Homo sapiens: one gene and its partners. The protein of the gene in region 3 purifies or fractionates together with the protein of the main gene of each other region. This does not show direct contact. Each region holds a gene or a part of one and is shown on either strand. Other genes may lie near its edges.

The links.
Region 1: the proteins of LURAP1L (region 3) and SHTN1 purify together in Homo sapiens (affinity purification with mass spectrometry; 3 studies listed by BioGRID and IntAct, with this or other methods). This does not show direct contact.
Region 2: the proteins of LURAP1L (region 3) and CDC42BPB purify together in Homo sapiens (affinity purification with mass spectrometry; 3 studies listed by BioGRID and IntAct, with this or other methods). This does not show direct contact.

Annotation. Positions count from the first base shown.
Region 1 is NC_000010.11:116,994,663-117,003,253, forward strand, and holds part of SHTN1 (shootin-1), read right to left. Parts: intron 1-8,591. UniProt on the Homo sapiens protein: Involved in the generation of internal asymmetric signals required for neuronal polarization and neurite outgrowth.
Region 2 is NC_000014.9:103,047,025-103,055,615, forward strand, and holds part of CDC42BPB (serine/threonine-protein kinase MRCK beta), read right to left. Parts: intron 1-8,591. UniProt on the Homo sapiens protein: Serine/threonine-protein kinase which is an important downstream effector of CDC42 and plays a role in the regulation of cytoskeleton reorganization and cell migration. Regulates actin cytoskeletal reorganization via phosphorylation of PPP1R12C and MYL9/MLC2.
Region 3 is NC_000009.12:12,769,522-12,779,064, forward strand, and holds the start of LURAP1L (leucine rich adaptor protein 1-like), read left to right. Parts: upstream 1-5,498; 5' UTR 5,499-6,194; coding exon 6,195-6,506; intron 6,507-7,678; coding exon of another isoform or gene 7,679-7,708; exon of another isoform or gene 7,709-8,057; intron 8,058-9,543.

The sequences.
Region 1 (8,591 bases), on a different chromosome or scaffold from region 3:
TGCTTTTGAAGCCTTTATCAGTCTGATTAAATATTATTTCACAATCAGAATGACTATTATTTCACAGTGACCTGTGATCCTATTTTGATTGTTTTGAATCTTTTTTACAAACCTCCCAAAATCAAATTGTAAATGATGTCTTTTTTACCTTAAACTAACTTTAGGATTTCCAGAGGGCTCCCTGGAAGTCTGAAAGTGACATATTAAATAAACCCATTAGGTTTATTCTGCATGCTAAATTATATAAGAAACATTGTCAAATAACATGTAATGCTAACCTTTGAGTTATTATTTGTATGAATGTTATTAATGTGTTTCAAAACTATGATATTCCTAGAAATCTAACATGCTACCTGTCATAATTCTGATTATGTTAAATTGTTATATCTCACAAACAACCAAATTTCCTTGTCAACTGCATTATTATCATAATGAACTCCCATCAGATCTTTAACCATGGCCATTTTAAGTCTTGTTGTTCACATTTATCATAACTGCTTTATTCTGATGCTCTTTCTAAAAGCTTTTTGCAAGCAATTATAATCCTAAAGTTTTGGGTCTTCAAGGAGGTATATGGGAAGAACAAAAAGAACTCTGACCTGTACAGGTCTCTGATAACTTTAAGGAAATACCAGTGGACTAGGTATGAACTCCAGAAATCTAAAGGAGAAACTGAACTCCTAAAATTGCTAACATCGAGCAAAATTAAGAATTAATTACATGGGACTAACATGATGAGGGACTGTGATTTTTAGGACTTTATTAGAAACACTACTGATTCTTTTATTTTCCAGATTTAGGAAAACATTTTCTTCTTTTGCGCTATCTATGGCTTAAGACAATTTGGTAAAGTATACTTTTGCAAATAGAATTGAAACATTTACTTTTCTTCCTTACTTGATCCCTCCAAAATTTGGAAACTATTCATGAGTATTCTTATTTTTAGGATAATATAGGCATTTGCATAAGTTCAGGAAGAATCCGTTCTTCTTTTAATAGGATACAATTGAAAATACTGGTTATATTGCCAAAGTTTGATGAGAATGTCGTATTTTCTGATATGACCAGTTTTTGGGAACTGAGGTCCCTAGAGGAACCTCAGTTTAATGGGGCCAATAAAGGCACCTTGGAAATACTGGCCTCGTACCTTGAATACATGGTTCAAATGGTTGCCTTATAGGGTAAAGAATGTCACCTTCCTGACAGGCCCAGGAACATCAGGAATCTAGGGAAGAGAGCTATCTATCTAAGACTACTATAGGCACAATCTGATGTTGAGTCCTAAGCTTGGCTTCTTAGCCTAAGGAGGCATTTTTGTAAGCCTAATCCGAGATTCCTTATGAAGAGTTCCAGCAAAGCAGATTTTAAAAGGGCTTACATAGTCAATCACTATTTTTGCTGCATTTATGTAAATAATTAGGCCAAGTATAATAGACAAAAACTTATTTTACAAATAAACTGGTCTTACTGATTCTTTTTGGTAGAAATTAGTGTGAGAGAGGAAAAATATTTTCAGAAAAATAATAGTTCAGAAACTATAGTTCACCCATTACTAGATTCTAGCCCTGTTCATTGTTTTTGAGATTTTATTAACTACCTGCAATCTGGAATGGATCCTAAATTCTTTTAGTTTTTTCTGATACCTGGCTGTGAGTCTCCAAACTAACATTTCCAATTTTTCTCCCACCCTTTGACCTGGAATCACTGAAATTAAAATTGGGCTTTTTCTGAAGCTATGCAAGCTAAAGCTGGACAACTTGATACAAACATAAGAGAAATCACCACAACAGCTTTTGTATCGACAACCTTTATGATATTTAAACTACAAACAAGGAAAATCTGTCAGATTGCAATTGCCTGCCCCACTCCAGCTGAAGACACTTTGAGCCTAAGATTTATAAATCCTCTCAACTGGCTGCTCTCCAGACTCAGAAACTAATTTATAGACTGCTCTAAACATTAACCTTGCTTTTCCTTTTTTTTCATAGAAATGTCTCTTATTAAGTATTTGTATGCTTATACATATAGAAACCTAACATTAAAGAGATCACCCATAACACCACCTCTTGAAATAAAACATGACTGTTTACCTAAACTAACCTAGTCTCAGGACTAAGAGACTGACTCAATAAGATATGAGACAATATACTTAAATCTGTTCTTTTCTGCTGGTTCCAATCTGGTTTTCTTCCCCTTTGCCAATCACTTATCTACAACCATACCTCTCCAAAGCTACCAGCCTAGCACATAATATGTGAGACTTTCTGAAAGTAAAGTTTCAAAGGGGAGAACTGAAGGAAACCAGCCTATCTCCCCAAAATATGAAAGACCTTCGAGCTAAAGATAATTAGGATGAAGGAAACTATCTGCCTTCCCTCTGTCTGCCTAAAAGCAGGACACAGAATTACAAAGACAAGAGGTCTATCTTCTCCCCATTTCCCACCTAAAAACAAGATACCCATTCTCCTTTACAACCCATATCACCTCAGAGATGGTGGCAGAGAAATCTGCGAGTAGACTTTACCCCAGGAGTTTCCCCATAAACTCACCTTCCCACATTCTCCTGCCTTTGGAAGCCTGGAACTGCTTTCCTTTGTCCTAACACTTTTCTAAATGTATAGTTCTTTGTTGAAGACAGTATGTTGAGCCACTGCTTATTTTTCTCCCTTGCGATGTGCACTGCATGCATTAATAAACTTGCTTGTTCATGTCTTTTGTTACAGGTATCTGTCCCAATTATGAACTTACAAGGTTTGAGGGACAGATTATTTTTTCTACCCTTCAATCCTTAAGGCATCTCTTGACTATGACAGTTTCTCAGACTTTACTCATTTTTATGACCTTGACAGTTGGGAGAAGTGCTGATCAGGTATTCTGCAGAACGTCTCTCAATAGGGATTTGCTGATATTTTCCTCATGAGTCGACTGGCTTTATGGGTTTTTAGGGGAAGACCACAGAGGTAAAACGCCAATTCATCACATCACACTATCATGCTATCATCATTGTTGATGTTGGCCTTGATCATCTAGCTGACATAGTGTTTGTCAGGTTTCTCCACTGTAAAGTTACTGGTTCCCCCTTTTCCATATTGTAGTCTTTGGCAGGAATTCACTATGTGCTGCCCACACTTAAGAATCAGGGAGTTAGGGCCAGGCGCGATGGCTCACGCCTGTAAACCCAGCACTTTGGGAGGCTGAGGCGGGTGGATCACGAGGTCAGGAGACCGAAACCATCCTGGCTAACACGGTGAAACACTGTCTCTACTAAAAATACATAAAATTAGTCAGGCATGGTGGCGGGCGCCTGTAGTCCCAGCTACTCGGGAGGCAGAGGCAGGAGAATGGTGTGAACCTGGGAGGCGGAGCTTGCAGTGAGCAGAGCTCATGCCTCGGCACTTCAGCCTGGGGGACAGAGCGAGACTCTGTCTCAAAAAAAAAGAATCAGGGAGTTAAGATACACCGCTTTGAGGGGGAACATCTACATAAATTATTTGGAATTGCTCTGCATGGGAGATTTGTCTTTAATCATTTATTTATATCAGTATCAACTCATGAATATTACTTCAAATTTTGAATTATAATCCAATATTCTGTTGTTCAGAGTTCCGTCTTTGGACATTGGATGTTCTTTCCATCGGCTCTTGTGTCTCTGACAGACAGTAGTTTCCCTCTTATCTACCGTTTCACTCTTCAGGGTTTCAGTTACCCATGGTCAACATGGTATGAAAATAGATGACTACAGTACCACAAGATATTTTGAGAGAGAGAGAGAGAGACCACATTCACATAACTCTTATTACAGTATATTGTTATAATTGTTCTATTTTATTATGAGTTTTTATTATCTCTTATTGTGCCTAACTTATAAATTAAACTTTATCACAGATACGTATGCACAGGAAAAAACTTGGAATATATAGGGTTTGTTATTATCCATGATTTCAGGCACCTACTGCAGGTGTTGAAACATAGCTTCCTCCATGGGTAAGCAGGGACTACAGTATCTCCATCAATGTCAGCTTATCAGTTGGTGCATTTCCTTAGTTTCCACACTACAAGATGCCCTAGGCTCATCTTGTATATTTCCTGCCCCTTTCCTAAAATTAGCCATTTCTCCTAGGAACCCTGTTCGTTTTATTCGAGAATGGCATTAGAAGCCAAGTTCTGGGCTCTAGATGTGCTCATTGATACTGGTGCATCTAGGCTCTCTCAGCTGACAGAGCAAGAAAATATATGTATATACCAACATATATATATATGTGTAACCATCCATACCTGTATTAAGCTAAACATGAGTTCACACTGATGTCTCCAACATGAATCCAGTGCCAAAAGCATTTTCTTTTTAGAGAGATGGGGTCTCACTACATTGCCCAGGCTGGTATCAAACTCCTGGGCTCAAGGTATCCTCCTACCTTGGCCTCCCAAAGTGCTGGGATTATACGCGTGAGCCAACACAACCAGCCCAGAAGCATTATTTGTAATAGCAAAAACAAGGAAAGAAAGATAGAAATGTCCATCCAGAGGACATTAAATACATTGTGGTACGTCTGTACATTGGAACATTAATCAATTTTTAATGACAACGCTACATGTACTAATATAAAAAATTACATATTACATGATAAATACATATGCACATACAAACACAATTTCTGGAAGGAAAGAAAACAAAAGGTTAACAGTAGTTAACTTTGGGAAATGGGAATGGGGTCATAGCATGCATTGTCAATGTAGTGATTTCATCCTCAAGGAGATAAGAGAAAAGATCTTGGATATTACAATGGCTTATGGCCCTTCAAAGAGTCACAGTGCATAAAACGCCTAAAAAGTTTCCTTAGGAGAGTGATAATGAAATAAAGATTGAGAAACAATGGGTCAGATAGAATAGTTAATTGTACTTTTCACTTTACACACTTGTTTTCTATGAGCATGTGTTTATTTTTGCATTTATTTTAAAAAAGGTTCACAGCTGGGTGCGGTGGCTCACGCCTGTAATCCCAGCACTTTGGGAGGCCTAGGCGGGTGGATCACAAGGTCAGGAGTTCGAGACCAGCCTGACCAACATAGTGAAACCCCATCTCTACTAAAAATACAAAAATTAGCCGGGTGTGGTGGCACATGCCTGTAGTCCCAGCTACTTGGGAGGCTGAGGCGGAAGAATTGCTTGAACCTGGGAGGCGGAGGTTGCAGTGAGCCGAGACCACGCCATTGCACTCCAGCCTGGGTGACAGAGTGAGACTCTGTCTCAAATAAATAAATACATAAATAAATAAATAATATTAAGGAAATAGTGAAATTCTGACTAGAAGACATAGTTCCTTAGCCCACACTGCATGTTCATCTCATGGGGGGTTGCCAAACTGTTGTTCTTCAGCAACCACTCCCTAACTTTCAGAGGAAAATGCATTGTTGATAAGTACCTGGTGATTCAGATGCAGCTGGCCCTTGTACCACACTTTGAAAAATACTGATGTAAAACCAAGTTTGCACTTGAAAACAAGGCAACATTTAATTCCAAACAGCTTTCTACTGGCTGATCTCATATGCACCCAAGATTGTCAATGCTTCCGTTTTCCCAGACTGACGTGGTCATTGTGGTAGGCAATAGTTTCAGACTGTTTTGTCAAAATAATGCTCCAGTTATTTCCTGGCCTAGAAGCCAATGGAATACTGGATGCATCTTTTAATTACTAACTTGCTCTAAGAATAAGCTTGACTAGATTTCCATGTGAACTTAAGTATCATCTCAATAATCTTGGGGAAAACGATACTAACTCTAAAGGTGAAAAGAGGTTTAAAATTGCTTTAAAACCAATTACCTCACCATAGGAAATCCATTTTAAATACTGTTAGCCCAAAAATTGCCCATTATTGGGGTGGTGGTGGTTGTTTTCCTCTTATGTATGTCCTTATTATTAAATAGCCATCTCTCTTCAAAATTTCATCAACTTGGAAATGACATGGCATTACTACACTGAACAGTTTAGCAGACATGTGTTGTCTGTGTCTGCCCGGTCAGCATCCTCATGGTAGTGCACCCCATTCTGTTTTGGACTATTCCTCCAATCTTTGCAGGGGCTGCCAATTAAAGTATCCTGCCCTCCCGTGGCCAAAGTATTTGAATACATGAGATTGGCCAAACTAGGCCAATCAGACACTCCTCCTGGAATTTACATGCCTAGCACTATCTCTAGACCAGGAACTCCTCACCAGCAGAGGCAAGGTCTTATTCAGCTCTATCTCTCTGATGCCTAGCACAGTGCCTGGCTATGAATATTCAATGCATGTGGGCTGAATGAATTATACAGAAAATCATGCACCTTAAACAAATGCTGAACTAAGTCTATCATTTTCCCACTGAATTCCGGAGGGGGAGCAAATTGTATGATGTTTTGTAAGGGAAATATCCACTTTAGTAGCTAGGAAATATGCCTCGGAAATAGTATCCAAAGTTGCCATTTCTCGGTGCATTAAAGATGTCAATCAGTCCAATAAAATAAAGCCCCAAAAAAGACAAAAGGAGAATTACCTCATTACCTCAACATCTGCTTGAACATAAGCAATCACACACTGGCTAATTTTTTTTAAAGGGACATAATATAACTTTCTGGAAAGACATAATATAGCTAATTATACCATTCACTAGGAGGGAACATAAAATGTTTTGAAGTAATTCAGAAGTGGGTGTGATTTATAAGACATAGAGCTTAGGGAATGGTAAGTATAAATTAGAGATTGTTCATATTATGACAGACTCCGTCATTACATTTCACAACTTTTGTCAAAAGCAACCTTATTCACCACACCACTAAAGGCTTCACGTTAGGGAAGGCTGCTGTCAGCTTTGTGGTTTAGAGTAGACAGGAATCTCCTTTCTGAACACTCTCCTGGGGAACTGGTTCAAGTTTTAGACTTAAAACTTACTAAGGCAGGGCAAAATGAAGAGAGATTGTTTAATGGGTTCAAACATAGTTAGATACAAGGAGTAAGTTTTAACATTTTGATAGCAAAGTAGGGTGACTACAGTTAACAACAATGTATTATATATTTCAAAAGAGATAGAAGAGAGGACTTGAAATGTTCTCAACTCATTGAAATGATAAATACTGGAGGTAATGGATATCCCAAATACCCTGACTTGATCATTATGCATTCTAAGCATGTAACAAAATACCCCATGTCTTCTATAAATATGTACAAGTCTCATGTATCAGTTTAAAAAAAAATCACTAAGGAAGGACCCATATGATGAAACCTAAATGGCCAATGGCCATGTAAAAAGATTTCAAACATCACTAATAACCAGAGCAATGCAAATCTTAAAAGGTAACATTCTGCCCATTAGATTGGCAAAAATTCAAAAACTTGTCAGGCCATCAAATGAATAAAGATTGCTATTAGCCAGAGTTGACCAATGTGTGGGGAAATGGGTACTGCTGAAGGATATCTGAACTGGTATAATCATTTTGGAGGGCACTTTTGCAATGTCTAGCAAAAGTAAATGTCCGTGCCCTCTAATCCAACAATTCCATTTCTTCTAAGAATCTATCCTAGAATAAAAAAGTAATTGTACATTTATTCATATGATAACTTGAATAGTACCTGTCTTCTCTTCTAGAAAATTAATTTGGTGACAAGGACTGTGTAGTTCACTATTTACACCCCTAGTGCCTACCACATGGACCTGACATATGGTGGTACTTGATAAGTATTTGTTGAAGGAATGAATAAATATGTTTACTCAGCATTATTAAGGGAAAATAACATATTTGATAAATAGTGGTTCTTCTTGCTCACACTAAATAGGGGTAGTGGAATTATCACTCAGAATATTAACATTGTGAGTAAAAAGGTAGTAACAGGTAGTAAAAATTACTATTTTCAAAAATAAACCATGCAACCATCAGCTTACAAAATTGATCATAGTATGTACTGTTAAATGCTCAAAGACCCAGTTACCTGTTCTTCCAAATCCCTAGCTTCCCAATTAGTTCTACAGGTCAAACAGTAACTGAACACTTTTGAAGTAAATTGTTTCCACAGTCTGTGATCCAATGACAAGCAAACTACCTGGTTTTGAAATGTATAAAAATCACACTGTGGGCTGAAAAAATCCCAACACCTTTGTAACTAGACTCACTATCCCCAAAAGTGTACCTTTTAAGAAACACAACTTTGAATATCTAACTGTTCTATTACCTTTCATATGCACTTAATCAAGGAAATATATCCTCTAAAAATACCAATGCCAAGGATTTGTTTATTTTCCAATACAATGCAATAGGAGAAAGAGCCACAAATATAGAAATCCTTTTTGTCAGGCCTCAAACCCAACATAGGAATGGAGAATGTGTTCCGAAATCAAATATAAGCAATTTGCAGATTATCTACATTGTTAATCGACCCTTGATTATACAAGAAATGAAAGGGAAAATTTTTTTATGTTTATCATTATTCGAAAACTGACCAACCATAAGAAGATCTGATATCCACTGACAGATATTACCTATAATGAAAGCTCCACAAATCTAGAATATGAATCAAGTTTTAATGTTTTGGGTTGGGCGAAGGTGTATTAAATATAAAAT
Region 2 (8,591 bases), on a different chromosome or scaffold from region 3:
CTATAATCCCAAGCACTCTGGGAGGCCAAGGCGGGTGGATCACGAGGTAAGGAGTTCGAGAACAGCTTGGCCAACATGGTGAAATCCCATCTCTACTGAAAATACAAAAATTAGCTGGGCTTGGTGGTGGACGCCTGTAATCCCAGCTACTTGGGAGGCTGAGGCAGGAGAATCACTTGAACCTGGGAGGCGGAGGTTCCTGTGAGCTCAGATCACGCCACTGCACTCCAGCCAGGGCAACAGAGTAATACTCTCAAAAAAAAAAAAAAAAAAAATTAGAACAAACATTAAAACTACAGTATTATCAACAAAAGTTCCCCAGAGCTGAAGGACCCAAGCGTCCCAATCAAAAAGACCCACCAAAGAACATTAGAGATAAACAAGAGTTCCCTGAAAGCTTCCAGAGATTTTACAAAAGAAAAGTCCCACACAGAGACTTGGAAACCATCGTGGTCTCCGACTTCTCATTACCAACACTCTCAGTGTAGACAGCAATGCCTCCATGCTTTCAAACTTCTGAGGAACAATGACTTCCAACCTAGAATTCTGTACGCAGGCAAAGTGCCATTCAAATGTGAGGGAAGAAAGGGCATTTTCAGCCAGGCATGGTGACTCATGCCTGTAATCCTGACACTTGGGGAGGCCGAAGCGGGCAGATTCCCTGAGCTCAGGAGTTCGAGACCAGTCTGGGCAACATGGTGAAACCCTGTCTCTACTAAAATACAAAAAATTAGCTGGGTGTGGTGGTGTGCACCTGCAGTCCCAGCTACTCGGGAGGCTGAGGCAGGAGAACTGCTTGAACCGGGAGGTGGAGGTTGCAGTGAGCCAAGATTGCACCACTGCACTCCAGCCTGGGCAACAGAGCAAGACTCTGTGTCCAAAAAAAAAAGCATTTTCAGACAGACCTGGTTCAAAAAATTCACCTCCGATGAATTCTTTCTCAGGAAGCTACTAGAAGATTCACTCCACCAAAAGATGAAAGACACAGAATCCAGAAAGGGGAATTCAACAGAGGAAAGAGACACGAAGAATCCCTGCAAGGAATGAAAAGCACTCCAAGGAGGACTGCTCAGTAGCAGGCCCGCAGGACACCCGGCCCAGGCTGAAACAGAAAAGTGGCAGGCCTGGAAGGGATGAAGGTGATAAGATTATGTGAGGTGTTTAATGGAGGAGTTCTAGTTAAAAGCCTGGCACTAAATTCATGACTGTACATTGAAAACCAAGCTAAAGAAAATTCGGCCGGGAGCGGTGGCTCACTCCTGTAATCCTAGCACTTCAGGAGGCCAATGCGGGCGGACTGCTTGAGGTCAGGAGTTCAAGATCAGCCTGGCCAACATGGTGAAACCCCATCTGTACTAAAAACACAAAAATTAGCCAGGCATGGCTGGGCGCGGTAGCTCACGCCTATAATCCCAGCACTCTGGGAGGATGAGGCAGGTGGATCACGAGGTCAGGAGATGGAGACCATCCTGGCTAACACGGTGAAACCCTGTTTCTACTAAAAATACAAAAAAAAAAAAAAAAAAAAAAAAAAAAATTAGCCAGGCATGGTGGCGGGCGCCTGTAGTCCCAGCTACTCGAGAGGCTCAGACAGAATGGTGTGAACCCAGGAGGCGGAGCCTGCAGTGAGCCGAGATCGGGCCACTGCACTCCAGCCTGGGCGACAGAGCAAGACTCCGTCTCAAAAAAAAAAAAAAAAATTAGCCAGGTGTGATGGTGGGTGCCTGTAATCCCAGCTACTCGGGAGACTGAGGCAGGAGAATCACTTGAACCCGGGAGGCGGAGGCTGCAGTGAGCCAAGATCATGCCACTGCACTCCAGCCTGGGCAACAGAATGAGCCTCCATCTCCAAAAAAAAAAAAATTTACTCCATGGGATTATTATAAGAAAAGAAAATAAAGAAAATTCACTCCAATAACACAAAACTATTTCCCTTAGTAAACTGTATCTTACATGGCTTAGCTGTGAAGACAGTTACCTAACAATAAGAATGCAGACACTGAATTACCAATTTAAACAAAATTATATAAACATATTTGGAACACAGAAAAAGAGCAAGGGGTGAATGTGTTTCAGGCAGTGGAGGGACAATGTAGAACAGTTCTAAGGCCTCTTCTACAGCAGAAGTCAGCAATGTCTAAAATGGTAAAATCAGAAATTAGCAGTACCAGCATGCTACACAGAAATATGAAATTTAAGGCAGGCATTGCTAAGCACCCACCAATATCCAAGGATCTTCTATAGTAACATCCCACCCCCGGCCTGCTTGGCTGAAGGAGGGTGGGATGGCCACCGTCTCAGATGGTGGCCTGAGGGTGGGAAAAGGCCACAGCCCCGGAGGCCTCTTGGAGCAAGGCTGTCCAACTAGCACTGACTGCTGACACGTCAACTTCACGTGAGAGAAATCAACCTGATTTTATTTAAGTCACTGTCACTTTGTTCTCCATTACTGGCAGCTAAATGTGATCCTAACTAAAATGATAAGTAGAAACAGAGCAGTTAAAAGTGGTAGTCTGTGGGAAGTTGGAGCGCGGAGCAAGCGACTGGTAGAGGGACTGCTGTCTTGCACTACAACCCAGTAGTACCGCTTAGTTTCCAAAACTAAGTAAATGCATTACATTGATAAAAGTTAAATGATGTTAAAAGAAAATCACCCCATGGGGCATGGTGGGAAGTGCTGTTAACCTTAACTTTTTTTATTTATTTGAGACAAAATTTTGCTCTTGTTGCCCACGCTGGAGAGCAATGGCACAATCTCGGCTCACTGCAACCTCCGCCTCCCGGGTTTAAGTGATTCTCCTGCCTCAGCCTCCTGAGTAGCTGGGATTACAGGCGTGCGCCACCAGCCCGGCTAATTTTTGTATTTTTAGTAGAGACGGGGTTTCACCATGTTGGCCAGGCTGGTCTTGAACTACTGACCTTGTGATCCACCCGTCTCGGCCTCCCAAAGTGCTGGGATTACAGGCATGAGCCAACACACCCGGCCATAACCTTAACTTCTAAAGCTAAGATTAGATGCGTCTTTTGGGGTCAATTTCAAATTCTAATACTGAATTGTGGATATCAGACTTTTTATTTTAAAGGCAACAGAATATGAAGGCATTGTAGTTTTGGAAAGGCAGAGTGATGAAGAGAGTTTGAGACTGATCTGGCAGAGGTATTTAAAACTTCAAGTGGGAAAGGCATTCATTTAGGCCTGAGGACCTGAGAGCTTTACCTAGGTCCCTGACAATGAGAATAGAAAGAAAAGGCTAAAATAAAATAAAGATATTTCAAAGCAGGCACCTGCAAGGAGGCCTGAGGCTGACCGCAGTCCTGTGAAGGACAGAAATGCTGGTTAGAGGGCTGTTTGCCCAGAAACGGTTAGGGAAAATGCTCAGAACCTGGTTTACCCAACCTGAGTGGGGAGTGGGCTGGAGGGCAGGTTAACATGACCTCCCCAAATTCCTAACATAGCGGAGCGCAGTGGCTCACACTTATAATCCCAACATTTGGGAGGCCAAGGTAGGAGGATTACTTGAGCCTGAGTTCAATTCCACCCTGGGCAACACAGCAAGACCTCGTTTCCACAAAAAATAAAAAATTAGCCAGGTGTAGCGGTGTATGCCTATTGTCCCAGCTATTCAGGAGGCTGAGGCTGGAGGACTGCCTGAGCCTGGGAAGTCAAGGCTGCAGTGAGACATGACAGAGCCACTACACTCCAGCCTGGGTAACAGAGCAAGACCCTGTCTTGGGGGGAAAAAAAAAAATTCTTAACAGTTTTCCAACCTATGACTCTGCAATTTTGGAGGTCAGGGAAATCATCACCTAAATTAACACTGGGAATCACCTTACAATAGGTCCCAAATGTTCTCCAAAGACTCTCCAATCCAAGGACCGAATTTGAATGAAATTATATCATTCCATTCAAATTTATGTTTGAATTTCTAATTCCTAAGAAAAACAAAAATCCAAAGAAGTTCTCTATTACACATCGATTTTTTGCAGTTTTAATCAAAAAACAATTTTGTTGCCACTGTTACCTACCAATCAATAAAACTAACCAAAAACCTAACCCCCAACACAGATTGTTTAAAATCAAACTGAAACTTGACCTTTATCTCCCAGTTAGTGGCTAGTGTATTTGGGGCGGGGGGGCGGGAGATTACTACACGCAGTTCACATTGCCAAAACACTTCTGATTTTAGATTTAAGGAGAGGGTGTTTCCTCTCATCCATTCTCATTAGCAAGAGAGGCTTTCTGTGAGCTTCTCACACAAATTTAAGGTAACCATAACATACCGTCATCCCATAACACTAAGAATCTAAGAAAAAAACAAACGTGGTCAAGGACTAATAGGTATTATGTTATGGGTTTTGGGATGAGATTACATGGTAACATTGTTTTTAGTCTCTTCCAGCTAAAAAAAAAAAAAAAAAAGCTTTGTCTCTTTTCAGAGAAAAGCATTTGACAGTTTCACTGTATTTAATATAGTTTGGAATTAACAGTCCTGTGTGCCTGCCTGTTTATCCAGTATCACTAATGTCAGCGCAACCAGGAGACATCTAAGGGCACCTGGCTTGCGACAAGAGGCAGGGCGGAGGCAAGCAGAGGAGCTCTCTGTCAACCCTGCAGTGTTGTGAGTTCTGTAATTTACATGCATTTGAGTATTTTGCCTGAAGGGCAATTCACTGCACATTTTAAACTTTTTCAGGTAGCTCACACAGTGGTATCCTGAAGTGAGAACTATTTCTTCAAATCCAATTTTATTTCTTTGAAGTCTAGATTTAAGAGAGACACTGCTGCTCACTGTGAAGCCCAACTGTCATGGAAGGAAGAGGTTTTTTGTTTTTTTTTTGGAGACAGGGTCTTGCTCTGTTGCCCAGGCTGGTGTGCAGTGGCGCAATCTCAGCTCACCGCAACCTCTGCCTCCTGGGTTCATGAGATCCTCCTGCCTCAGCCTCCCAAGTAGGTGGGACTATGCGTGCCACCACACCCGGCTAATTTTTGTATTTTTAGTACAGACGGGTTTTCACCTTGTTGGCCAGGCTGGTCTCAAACTCCTGATCCACTCACCTTGGCCTCCCAAAGTGCTGGGATTACAGGTGTGAGCCACCACACCCGGCCTGAAGTTTTAAGACAGAAAAGGTAGGGCTGGGTTGTTAATGTTTAATGGTTTCAGCTGTCCTATCTCATGCTATTATAGTCAGTATCAAACAGCTACCATAGAATCTACATGATCTAAATTAGGTTAAACTAATTTTTATCATGCAATCCTAACATTTCCCTATAATTCAGATCTTACTCAAAAGATCTATTTCTTAAGTCTGTTATTTTTAAAAAGTGTTCCCATGTTATGCAAATATTCTATCCAGAGAAATCATTAAGATAAAAATGTATTTGAGCCGGGCACAGTGGCTCACGCCTGTAATCCCAGCACTTTTTATTATGAGATGTTTAGCACCGTGTCAGTTAAGCCTTACTTATTAAATTCGGTGGCATCATCCCACTCACACCTTGGGCTGGCCATTCCCACACTAACAGCTATGGGCATTCACATCCATGGAGGAGGACCGTGAGAAGATACTATCACACTCATGGTGAGAAAAGCCACAAATGAGGAACCACCCAGAAGACTAGGAGGATTAATTCTATTCATGAAGAGGAAGCACATCTCGAGAGAAGATGCCCGGACTGGGGACTGGAAACCCACGGTCCGCCTCTGTGACACCAGCATCAAGCCTGAGGCCTCCCTCCTGGTCTGACGGCCACACAGCAGCCAGGGCAGAGGACCACTGTGGCCTGTCCAATGCCCATAGGCTAGGATTTCAAACATCAGCTCCATCCAAACGCAACATTAGCTGTTACAAATAAGCTGTGGGAAAAATATTTAACACATAAGACAGTATTTGTATATGACAAAGATGAAAGACAACAAATTCATCTCACTGGGTTGTCCGTATTTGTTGCTATTTACTTTTGGAAACTGTAAAGTGTTTCATATGTTCTGCTTCAAATGGTATCAAGATATTTTCAAAATAGCTTAAAGAAATATACATGCAAGGCCAGGCGTGGTGGCTCACGCCTGTAATCCCAGCACTTTGAGAGGCCGAGGAGGGTGGATCACGAGGTCAGGACTTTAAGACCAGCCTGGCCAAGATGGTGAAACCCCGTCTTTACTAAAAATACAAAAATTAGCCAGGCGTGGTGGCAGGCACCTATAATCCCAGCTACTCGGGAGACTGAGGCAGAGAATTGCTTGAACCCGGGAGGCGGAGGTTGCAGTGAGCCAAGATCGCACCACTGCACTTCAGCCTGGGCAACAGAGTGAGACTCCGTCTCAAAAAAAAAAGAAAAGAAAAGAAAAGAATACACACGCAAAGCTGGGCATTAAGGTTCAAGATTTCATAGAGGAAACCAATCAAGCTATAGGAAAATTAAAGACAAAAACCTACAATGAAAGTTGAAATGACTCGGCCAGGCACGGTGGCTCACACCTGTAATCCAAGAACTTTGGGAGGCCAAGGGGGGCAGATCACGAGGTCTGGAGATCGAGACCATCCTGGCTAACACGGTGAAACCCCGTCTCTACTAAAAATACAAAAAAATTAGCCAGGCGTGATGGCGGGCGCCTGTAGTCCCAGCTACTCAGGAGGCTGAGGCAGGAGAACAACGTGAACCCGGGAGGCAGAGCTTGCAGTGAGCCGAGATCCCGCCACTGCACTCCAGCCTGGGCGACAGAGTGAGACTCCGTCTCAAAAAAAAAAAAAAAAGTTGAAATGACTCTTGTCCCATGCGACCACTGTGGCAATAAGAAAATATGAGCCAAAAATAATCATATTTTATTTATTTTTGAGACAGGGTCTCACTCTGTTGCCCAGGCTGGAGTGTAGTGGCATGATCATTGCTCATTGCAGCCTTGACCTCCCAGGCTCAAGTGATCCACCCACCTCAGCCTCCAGAGTAACTGGGACTACAGGTGTGCGCCACCATGCCCAGCTAATTTTTATATTTTTATAAAATTTTATTTTGACATTTATTATAGATACTGGGTTTTGTCAGGTTGCTCAGGCTGGTCTTGTCTTCCTGAGTTCAACCAATCCTCCACCTTGGCCTCCCAAAGTGCTGGGATTACAGGCATGAGCCACTGCACCAGGCCATAATCTTCCTTTAAAACTTAAAAAGTTTACTACCTATACTTTCCAAATTTCCTCACATATTCCCCATTAAGCCTCCAAATCTGGGCTGAATCAGCTACTTTTCTTCCTTAAGTTTCAAGAATTCTCCATAATTGTCATTAGATACCTGGCAAGATTTGGGAAGTGGGGAAAGGTTGGCTTTTCCACGTGACAGGAATCGACATATCAGAGGTTTCAAATGTCATGGAGTGGTGAATCCAAAAACTGAACAGTCCACTGATGGACAGCCTATATGTGTTTCCTGAGCAGAAGTAATTCCACTTGGAAGTTAGAGTACCTAATATTGCTCTATAAATAGTTTTATTCAAAAACATTATTCTGTGCTTTCCAATCGAAACAACCAGGCAATTCCAAGCAACATTAAATACTAACTGCACACATGTTAACTAGAAATACACCACTTTAGAGTTACAATGACGTATATGTTAACATAAATGAGTTTAAATACTTGTAAAATATATTGATATTTCATTAAAACACCACCTTCTAAGTCCATTCTTCCCTATAATTGAAAGTTTATACTTTTGTGCAAACTGAGTTCCTGAGAATAATGTAGTTTGTAATCACAATTTCCAAAGAGCCAGAATACAACTTTGAAAATATGTCTATGTTACAGCACAGTTCCCGTTTAGATTTGGAAAGGCCAGATCTCATAAAATATGACCTCCACACATGCTGACAAGAGCTTCCTCCAGGGAAGCCCACCAGTAATGCCTGGTGGAGAGAGGTGGCTGCACAATGGCCCCCAGGGCCCCCGCCCTCAGACTAATCTTCTAGGTCCCAGGCCAGAGGCCAGTGGGACCACATCTTCCCAGCAAAACCAACTTTCCCTCTGCTTCCTCTTCCCAGTCACACTCACAGGTGGTGCACCAAGTTGAACCTGACAGTGGAACTGTGTGGGTTTCAAGATCGAGTGATCAGAAAGGAACGGTAAACAAGCTGGGTGCAGTGGCTCACGCCTGTAATCCCAGCACTTTGGGAGGCCGAGGCAGGTGGATCACCCGAGGTCAGGAGTACAAGACCAGCCTGGCCAACACTGTGAAACCCCTTCTCCACTAAAAATACAAAAATGAGCCGGGCATGCTGGTGCGTGCCTGTAGTCCCAGCTACTCGGGAGGCTGAGGCAGGAGAATTACTTGAACCCAGGAGATGGAGGTTGTAGTGAGCCAAGATCATGCCACTGCACTCCAGCCTAGGCAACACAGTGAGACTCGTCTCCAAAGAAAAGAAAGAAAAGGTAAACAAAATATTCAGATTTTAACATGCACCAAAGACCTCACTTTCAAAGCAACGGTGAAGTCAATTAATTATTCAGTTGGAAATCGTGTCACTGACAAAGGACGCTAGAAAGCAAATACTCTTAATTTACTGATACTATAAGTAACCAAGAATGGTGGTTCCCACGGAAATAA
Region 3 (9,543 bases):
CACACTTTTTAAAAAAGGCTAACAGCGGTTATTACCTAATTTATAAGTAATCGTATGGAGTGATGTAAAGTAGCCTGTCGTTTTTAATACTTTTTTTGTGATTAAGTAAGTTTGCGTCTATTCTTTGCAGTGACTTTAAGTGTTCTTGGCTGGTTTTTGTTGTTTTTGTTGTTGTTGTTGTTTTTAATGGAGTCTTGCTCTGTCACCAGGCTGGAGTGCAGTGGCACGATCTTGGCTCACTGCAAGCTCCGCCTCCCGGGTTCAAGCAATTCTCCTGCCTCAGCCTCCCAAGTAGCTGGGACTACAGGTGTGTGCCACCACGCCCAGCTAATTTTTGTATTTTTAGTAGAGACGGGGTTTCACCATGTTGGTCAGGATGGTCTCGATCTCTTGACTTTGTGATCAGCCTGCCTCAGCCTCTTAAAGTGCTGGGATTACAGGTGTCAGTCACCGCACCTGGTCCTTGGCCACCTTTATACCTCTGCCAAATAAAAAGAAAAGTATGAAACAAAAAGAAGATTCCAGTTATCTCATATTATTCACAGCCTCATGTCTAAACTACACCTCCAAGACCCCACATCACTCTATAGTGTTATGATTTGAAGTCTGTCTCCCACAAAAGATATCCTGAAATCCTGACCCTATGGTACCTCAGAATGTAACCTTATATGGGGAATGGGGTTGTTGCAGTTATAATTTGCTAAATTAATTCAATATGGTGGGTGTGCGTGTAAGAAGACAGAAATTTAGACACAGACACAGAGGTAAAATAGCCATGTAAAGACAGAGGCAGCGATTGGAGATATGCGAGCACAAGCCAAGGAATGCTGGGCCTCCCAGAAGCTGGAAGAGGCAAGGAGGAATCCTTCCCTAGAGGCTTTGGAGGGAGCATGGACCTGCCCACATCTTGATTTTGGACTTCTAACCTACAGAACTATAAGACACTAAATTGCTGTTGCATGGTACTTTGTTATGGCAACCCTAGGAAACTAACATACACGTTTCACAAGTTCACTATTCTTCCTGCTTTCTGACCTTGGGACTCATATTCCTAATTATGGCTTTGCCTAACCCTTAGACTTAAAACTGCACTACGTTTTCTGGCTTTGTGTTTTTATTTTCTTTCTTAACTATAATTAATGATCGCCCTCCAATGATTTTATGAAACACAGGTGTCCTGGTGCCAACCAATCCCAGTTTGCAGGAGACAATTGTTAAATTTTTGAGAATTTTGCAAGCTGGTTGCTAAACACAGCCATTTTTTTTTAAAAATTACATTGTATAAGTTTTAATATAGGAAAACAAAAACAAAGGTAATAAATGATTAAAACTCATCACTTCCTAATTACTTAAATACATTTTACTACTCTCTGTGCTTACTACTCTTGATGCTTTTAAGGTTATTTACATGTGTTTTACCTGTATAGTGGAAACATTATGTAATGATGAACTAATTCCCATCCTTTCCCAACTCACATCTCACATTGGTAGCTTGATATCAGCCATAATGAGAGTATTTACACCATGAATGTTGCTAAAAGCTACAAATCAGTTATTTTTATATTTTCAGAGAGTTGGTTATAAACATAAACCAGCACAGCATTGAAATGCTATAAAGTCCATTCTATAGGCCAAATTGGGATGGCTGTAGAGGAACAGAAAAAAGTTAGCTGGAGAGATCTCTTTTCTTGGCCCTGCATTGTACCTTTCAGCAGGAAGTTAGAGCTCAGGATAGCAAGAAAAAGCAAATAAAGGATGCTATTACAAATAATGAAGGCAGAGAGATTTGACCGGGATTGTGAAGAGGGGATAAGGAAGACTTAGATCCTGGTGACCTACTTTTAGTATTGTCTGCTAAATCCTCAGGGAAGTGTTTAGCTCTGATTATAAATATTAATTAGATTTCAATCAGAGACTATTTAAAGGGTCTGTACACCTTAGAGAGAGACATTTCAGATAGATTGATTGTTAGAAATATATACAGATATAGTAATATATATAGCATTTTCATGTACAAGTGGTTCAAGTTGGTAATAAGTAGATGATTTCACATAGTAAAACAGACCCAAGCCAGCTACAAAATTATAGGTAAATTAAATGACTCTATAAATAAGCATGATAAAACCTTAGTAACTTTAGCAGATATATAATTCCACTGTATATGGATAGGGTCAACATTCTTTAGCTTTGCTATAACATCTTCCTTGTTATGCATATAAACTGAACAAAAATATTTGTAGAAGCAGCAGCTCTACACATTTAAAAACAAACAATGAAAGAACCTGATACTTATTAAATAGTGACTTCCTAAAATTCTTAGGCATAATTTGAGGCTGTTGGCTGCTTGACATTATTCTGCACTGTGGGGAGTGGAGTCTCAGGTAAGAGACCCTGTCCTAGCCCTTGAGCTCTGTGACAGCAAGAGTTGGGAATGCTGCAAACTTGCAATCAGTGCCAGAAAGAAGGTGGAAGGTGTTTCTTCTTTTAACCACAATGCCAGCAACAGATTAAGGAGTGGTGTTACCCACACTACATGAAGCGTTGTTGAGTCTACTCTTGCTGTGAGTATTGTGTCTCAAATCAGGAAATGTTCTAAGTGTGGAATGTGTGAAGCGTGCATCACATCAGTCTGTTGTGACTGAGGCATTCTTTCAAAACCTGTCATCTGAGTCCAACAATGTTCCTATTTAATTAGCCACTAGTTTTTCTTTCTTTTTAATGATAAATAAGAGGCTCCCTTTCCTTCTCCGTGTACACAACATAGCTAGGGAAGAAACTCAGTCTCTTAAAGTCCTGCATAGTTTAACATTCATTCTTAGATTCTTTATGCATTTTGAATAGAAAAAAAAGGCAAATCCAGCTCATACATATGGTGGTCTTAAAAGGAAGCATATAATGAAGTATAAAAAATTACATCACAAATAAAAACAATACAATAACCATTTTTACAATTTTACTCTGCAATGTATTATTAGACTTGGAGAAACACTGCGAGTTTAGGTGGTTGTTGGCATGGCAAATGCTACTAATCAAAGAAACAGAGGTAGTTGGAGATGGACCAGAAAAGTAGGAGCAATGAGGGAGTGCTACTAAGAGTGATATGACTCAAGAATTTTTCCCTCTGTCTTTCTTAGTTCTCCCTATGTTCCCTCTCCCAGTTGTTGCTGAATTCACTGCTACCCCCAACCCCCATCCTGGACTCATTACTGCAAAGTCTTCTCAACTGATTCCCCAACTCAAGATGTAATTAGCTTCTCAGGCTAAGAGCAATTGGTAAAACATCTCACACATTTTTGTCCTTGTTGTTTGTGGGCATTTTTGTATGTTTATTGTTTTTATTTTTGTTTTTGTTTTTTGAGGCAGTTTCTCACTCTGTCTCAAAGACTAAAGGGCAGTGGCTTGATAATAGCTTACTGCAACCCCGAACCCCTGGACTCAAGCAATCTTCTGGCCTCACTCCCTCACCCCTAACCCCTTAGCTAAGACTACAAGTGCATGCCACCATGCTTGGCTAATTTTTAAATTTTTTGAAGAGGTGGGGTCTCGCTATATTGCCCAGGCTGACTCAGTTTCTTGAGAATCTTGAAAACAAACAAACAAAACACATGCTCAAGAACCAAAGTAAAAAAAAAAAGTTTTCAAATAGTTTGAGTAAGAAATGTCCTCAGATTAAACCACATAAAGCAGTTATGGTAGCATTAACAACAATCTATTATAGATCCATAAACATTCAATGATTTTAATATATTCTGAAAACTAGCTAAAGCATCATTCAAAATGTCTTCATTTTAAACTAAAATGTCAATAGGCATTTAACCGAAAAAAAATTTAAAGCTTGACATACTAAGCTTTCCTTCAAAAGTTTACATTTTTTTATATTTCACTGGAACAAAGTTACTTTGCATATACATCACACTTTTACTCTCAGAGGAGTTTCTCCTGCAGACTTCTTTAAAAAACTATATACATATATACATACATATACGTATATATTAAATTATCCTCAGCCTCAAATACTGATTTTGCAGTCTGTGATTCATAGCAGAAGAGGTGTCCCATTTTTCTATATTGACACACGATAATTTGACATTTGTTTTTTACTGACCAATTTCTAGCTAGATATTTCATCTATAAACTGCACTTAGCCAGCCTTATGCTGAACTTTGTAAGGGTTTTGTAATAATAAACTGTTCTTGACTGAAACACAAGCCTTTCATAATTACATGCCACAGTGCAATTCTTATGCAACGAGCTTGTGTTTTTCCAAATTTAGGACCAAGCATGTAGTTTTATCAGTTAGCTGGGATTTGGTCTTGTTTTCCCTTGATTCTGTAAGTGGTAGTTCTAACTTTGAAATGGGTCATCTAACTTATAACTATTTTCTTCATTTCTTTTTAAAAGGGAGAAATAGCATGCAAATTTCTGGCATGTTGATAGAAAGTTCAGCATTTTTTCCCTGACATGAAATATTTCATTTAGAATGCGTATGTTTCCTCTACGTATAAGGTTTCCTAGAGTCAGATATGATAAAAACAAACTCTGAGATGTATATACCTATGTTCCTACAAGTGTAAAACCTGAATGATGTCTCTGGAAATGGAGCCTCGGAGTGACCAGGAACACAAATACTTATATGTCACAGAAATAGAGGGGCACATACTTTGAAATATTTCAATGGAAATCAAAAATTGTAGTTTACTGGATTGAAATTAGTATCCTCTACTTAAACATTTTTGACACAAACTCAATGCTGATTCAGATCTGTAATCCATGTAGCTCATAATAACTTACTTGGTAGAAGTATTTCAGATTAATGAATTGTACAATTGTACAAATTAATAAATTGTACAATTGTTCAACTATACAATTAATTGTACAATTTGTATAGTTGAAAAAATCTATAAATTAATTTATAGATAAATTATCAAAGAAGACAACATTTTAAATAGTTATTCCCAATATTTTTTCTTCCATAATTAAAATAAAAGTAAGTATCTCAGCAATTGCTTGTTCTTAAAATTTCACTGCTATCTCAGCAGTCATGTAAGTTATTCTGGCTATTTAATTTTTCACTTTTGTTTGCATACTGTAACAGTTGGTAGGATAATTAATTTTGATTGTACATTTCCATTGAACTTTTGATGAAATTGTTTCACTCTTTTTATTAGAATAAAATTATTAGGAAAGTCTTCTAAAGAGAGGTTTTCTGTTTGTTTTTCCTTTGAGGAAGGTAGAGAGATGGGAAACGAAGACACCAAATATAAAGTCATTCCTCTATCTCTCATTTTAAAACCTGTTTTAAAGGTTGTAGCTAGTCAGGAAAACTGAAAAATCAACTGGTATTCCTAACTAAAGCAGGGCTTTGAAACTCTGCTACTAGCGACAGGGTTGGGAAAATTCCGGTTGCTCTTCTTGTCTGTGATATACGGTAGAAGGGTTGGTCCTGGTTTGGTCCACCTGCCAGCGGAGTTTAAAGTTTCCGAGGCTCAGAGGAACACAATGACTTGGATCAAACAGCCTAAATGGGAAGAAGGACATTTTTGCTGCATCAAGGAAGCCGTTAAACTCCTGCTAAGCTAACTAGCTCTTTTTTATGGGTCCATGCACACGACCGAACTCCTCTTTCACTGACCAGAGATTATTTCTGACAACCCAGGATATCCCGAAAGCTTGGAGGCATATGGCTGGAAAATGAAACGACCCAGGACATCGTTTCTGGCTGCATCATTATTTTGTGTCGCGTAGTACCAGATGGGCAGTCAGTGAGCGGCGCAGGGATGTGAACGGACGGTTTTATAATGTGAAAATTTTCCCTTGGTAAAGCTAAAACAGATTTAATTTCCCTCTCTTTTCTTTCACTACTTCCCCCTCTTTATTCCCCCTCTGTCTGCAATATCAGTGAACTCAACTTTGCAGTGAGGTGGCCAAAAAGAGAGAGAATGAGGAGATCTTGATCATCTTAGTGTCGGAGGAGTCGCAGCGGACTGGGAACTGCAGCTGCGACCCCCCGCGTCCTGTGCGGATTTCAGGGCTGATACCGCATAGGCGGTTATGGAAAGGACGGTACACCGGAGCGGCGGAGGATAGAGACCCTGGCCCCCGGAGAGGTCTGCTGATTTCGCAGCAGCCTTCGAAGCCGTGGCTGCCTTTCATCTGCTGCGTTTTATTACTATTATCGCCGTTCCGGAAAAGTCATGGAAGACAGCCCGCTGCCAGACCTCAGAGACATCGAGCTGAAGCTGGGGCGCAAAGTACCCGAGAGTCTAGTGCGCTCTCTCCGTGGGGAGGAGCCGGTTCCCAGGGAAAGGGACAGGGACCCCTGCGGGGGGAGCGGTGGTGGTGGCGGCGGCGGCGGCGGCTGCAGTAGCAGCAGCAGCTACTGCAGCTTCCCTCCCTCCTTGTCGTCCTCCTCTTCGTCCTCCCCAACCTCTGGCTCCCCACGAGGTAGCCACTCTAGCGCCCTGGAGAGGCTAGAAACCAAGCTTCACCTCCTCAGGCAAGAGATGGTGAGTGTGGTGCGCCAGCCGCGGGGGCTGGGACCTGGGCTGGGCCAAAAGATGGGGCGATCTGAGAATGGGGCTGGGAGAGAGGACGGCAGGGGCTGCAGAGCGGAGCGCTGGGCGCGTGGGAAATGCTGGGTGGAGGAATGAGCAGGGGGCGCTCATCCGGAGGCAGCTGCTGCGAGGCTTGTTTACCGCGGACTTTGCTCGGTCACGGTTTGCAAAGACAGCACAGTCGGCTGGCTCCACTCTGTGTACTTTCGGACAACGCGACTCACTGCGCCGGGCTCTATTTAGCTGCCAGCCCGTAGCCTCTTAGGCACCAGCCCGTTGAGAGTTTGCAGTTATTGCACCCATCTAAGGCCTGCTGTGCGCTGTTAACACTTCGGGTAGGTTCAAAAGGTGGCTCAGTCCAATGCACTTACTGCAAAAATACTTCCTGGTTTGCCGGGAGGTGGCGTGGCAGGGTCCTTGCAGCCTTTCCTCCTAGCTCACCCTTCCACCAGTACCGCTCCGCCCTCCTGCCCTCCCTTCTTGGTGCAGCAGCCGCAGCTGTTCCAAGGCCACTGTCGAGCAGATTCTCCACAGCTGGTTCTGAAAACAATGGCCTACTCGTCCTTGATGTACTTATGAATAGCTTGTTTCACTATTTTGATCCCAGGGAGCAGGTGATCCCCAGGCCCAGGGATCTGCTAAGGACCATCTCCCACCCTTCTCCCTCAAGTCTCAATCTGCAGTTGTTTTCCCTGCTGTTTGCAAACGTTTGCCTGAGCATAGGACAATGAGATAAGTACAAGGTCTAGGAATACTCATTCTGGAAGTATTTAGACTAAGACACTATTTACTTGCCATGAGCTCTTGGGCACGTCACTTCACTTCTGTAGACCTCTGTGAATTTGATGAGCTGGTTAGAGAAAATGATCCCTCCCTAAGTCCTTTGAAAAAAACGACCACAAAGCAACAGCATTTTCTACTAGCTTGGAGATAAGGAAAGTTGCAACAGTGGGCCTCAAAAAGAGAAAATAATTTCATTAAATTAACTTCACAGTTGCTTTTGATTTGCTTCAAAGTAGGCTAGGAGATTTCTATCACTCCGACAGGAATGCTGGAAATTATTTCTATCATTCTATCGTTTAGTTATTATAGAGTTCTATCATTTAGTGATTGTTATTTTTTAGGTTGGACAAAAATTTAAGGACAACCCTTAGGTACATAATGGAGAAGCTGGAAAGTGGAAGTCATCTTGATGAGTTTGCAAAATAGATGAAAAGATAAAATGGAAAAGATGACAAACCAACAGGTCAGGGGATGCCTGATACCGTATCACAAAGATCAGACATACGTGTGGAGACTAACAGGTAAAACTATTTTCCACAAGAAAATTTCTTGTACAAGGAATTAAGAATGTTGCTAACTCTGCAAATTAAGGACTTAATATGAGGGACGAAGACATCAAGGAGATGAGGAAATTTTATTCCTAACCATGTCTTCTGTAATTTTACCCATGGAATGTTAATATATTCACTTAATCTAATAAATAAATCTTGTTGAAACATATTTTCTTTCTCAGTAGCTCACTGATAGCACATCAAAGATAATACTGTCATTTTGCTGGACACTCAGACACAATTTAGAGTATTTATATATAACTTGAAAACAGTAACATTTCCAAAAACCGATGAACCCCACCCTGTCCCAAGGAATGATTGGTATGTATGTGAAGATCATTTTCTGACAAAAATAATTACGTTCCACTTAGGATGCACAACCATGTTGTCCTGTAGAGAAGTCACAAGTTTTGTGAGAATTTTTAAACTGATGATGTTTATTTCCATGGTAACGTGAGTATACATTTTACCTTCTATTGTAGTGATGAATCACAATTAGTTTTTTTTTATAGGTTGGTGGAAAAGTAATTGCTGTTTTGCCATTGCTTTTAATGGCAACCACAACTACTTTTGCACCAACCTAATATTTATTAAGACTTTACTTTTTTGAGACACAATTTCTGAAACTGGGATTTATGTTGAGAGTCTCTAAGGTCCCTGATAATTTGTCGCATTTGTTGTTGTTTTTTGGAGAATATTTCATCACTACTCAAATGATGGTCCTCTGGTCTGGTGGAAGCTTCGTAAGCTTTGAAGCCAGATAAACCAGGGTTTCAGACAAGTCTAGAGCAAGTCAGGATATCAATAAGACCCAATAGGATGTAGGGCTGCCTGTCTAGGGAGACATTTAGCTTATCTTCCCCGGCAAAAAGGCTTGTCCCGCTCTCTGTGGCCCTCATTCTAGTCATGGCTTTTTCACTCACTAGTGTGTGGCACTGAACAAGTTATAGAACCACTTTGAGACTCAGCTTTCTTGTTAACATAGGAATAAGAGCATCTCCATTAAGGCATTTTAAGAATTCAGTGAAATAATATAAGAAAAACAACTATTACATAGATATTCAAAAACAGTAAGGATGCTGGCAGTAATGAGCATTACATCAATGACATGGGTTCCGTTGATCTTACAAAAGCAGCCCTACATGGATAATGTGGATTTGGGACTGATGAAGGCCTAGATATCTTCTCCACCAGACTGACTCTATCATGTCATCTCCCATGTCATCAGATACTCTCTGTAGAGACGATGTTTCCAAACAAACTAACGCACAAAATATGTGTAGGTTTCCCTAGCTTCAGTTCAACTGGAAATCTTGATTTTTATTTTAAATTTAACTTTTATTAAACACATGCTATGTGCTAAGCATGCTGCTGATTGAAGTAGCATGTATGAAAGAATTGTAGAGCCTAATGTCAGGTAGTCCAGGAAATCTGAGGAACTTAAACCAATACAGTAGCCCACCTTATCCATGGGAGATATGTTCCAAGACCTCCAATGGATGCTTGAAACTGTGGATAGTACCAAAGCCTATATAGACTGTTTAGTCCTATGCGTACGTACCTATTGTAAAGTTTAATTTATAAATCAGTCACAGTAAGAGATTAACAATAATAACTAACAATAAAATAAAACAGTGTATTGCTATGTGAATGTC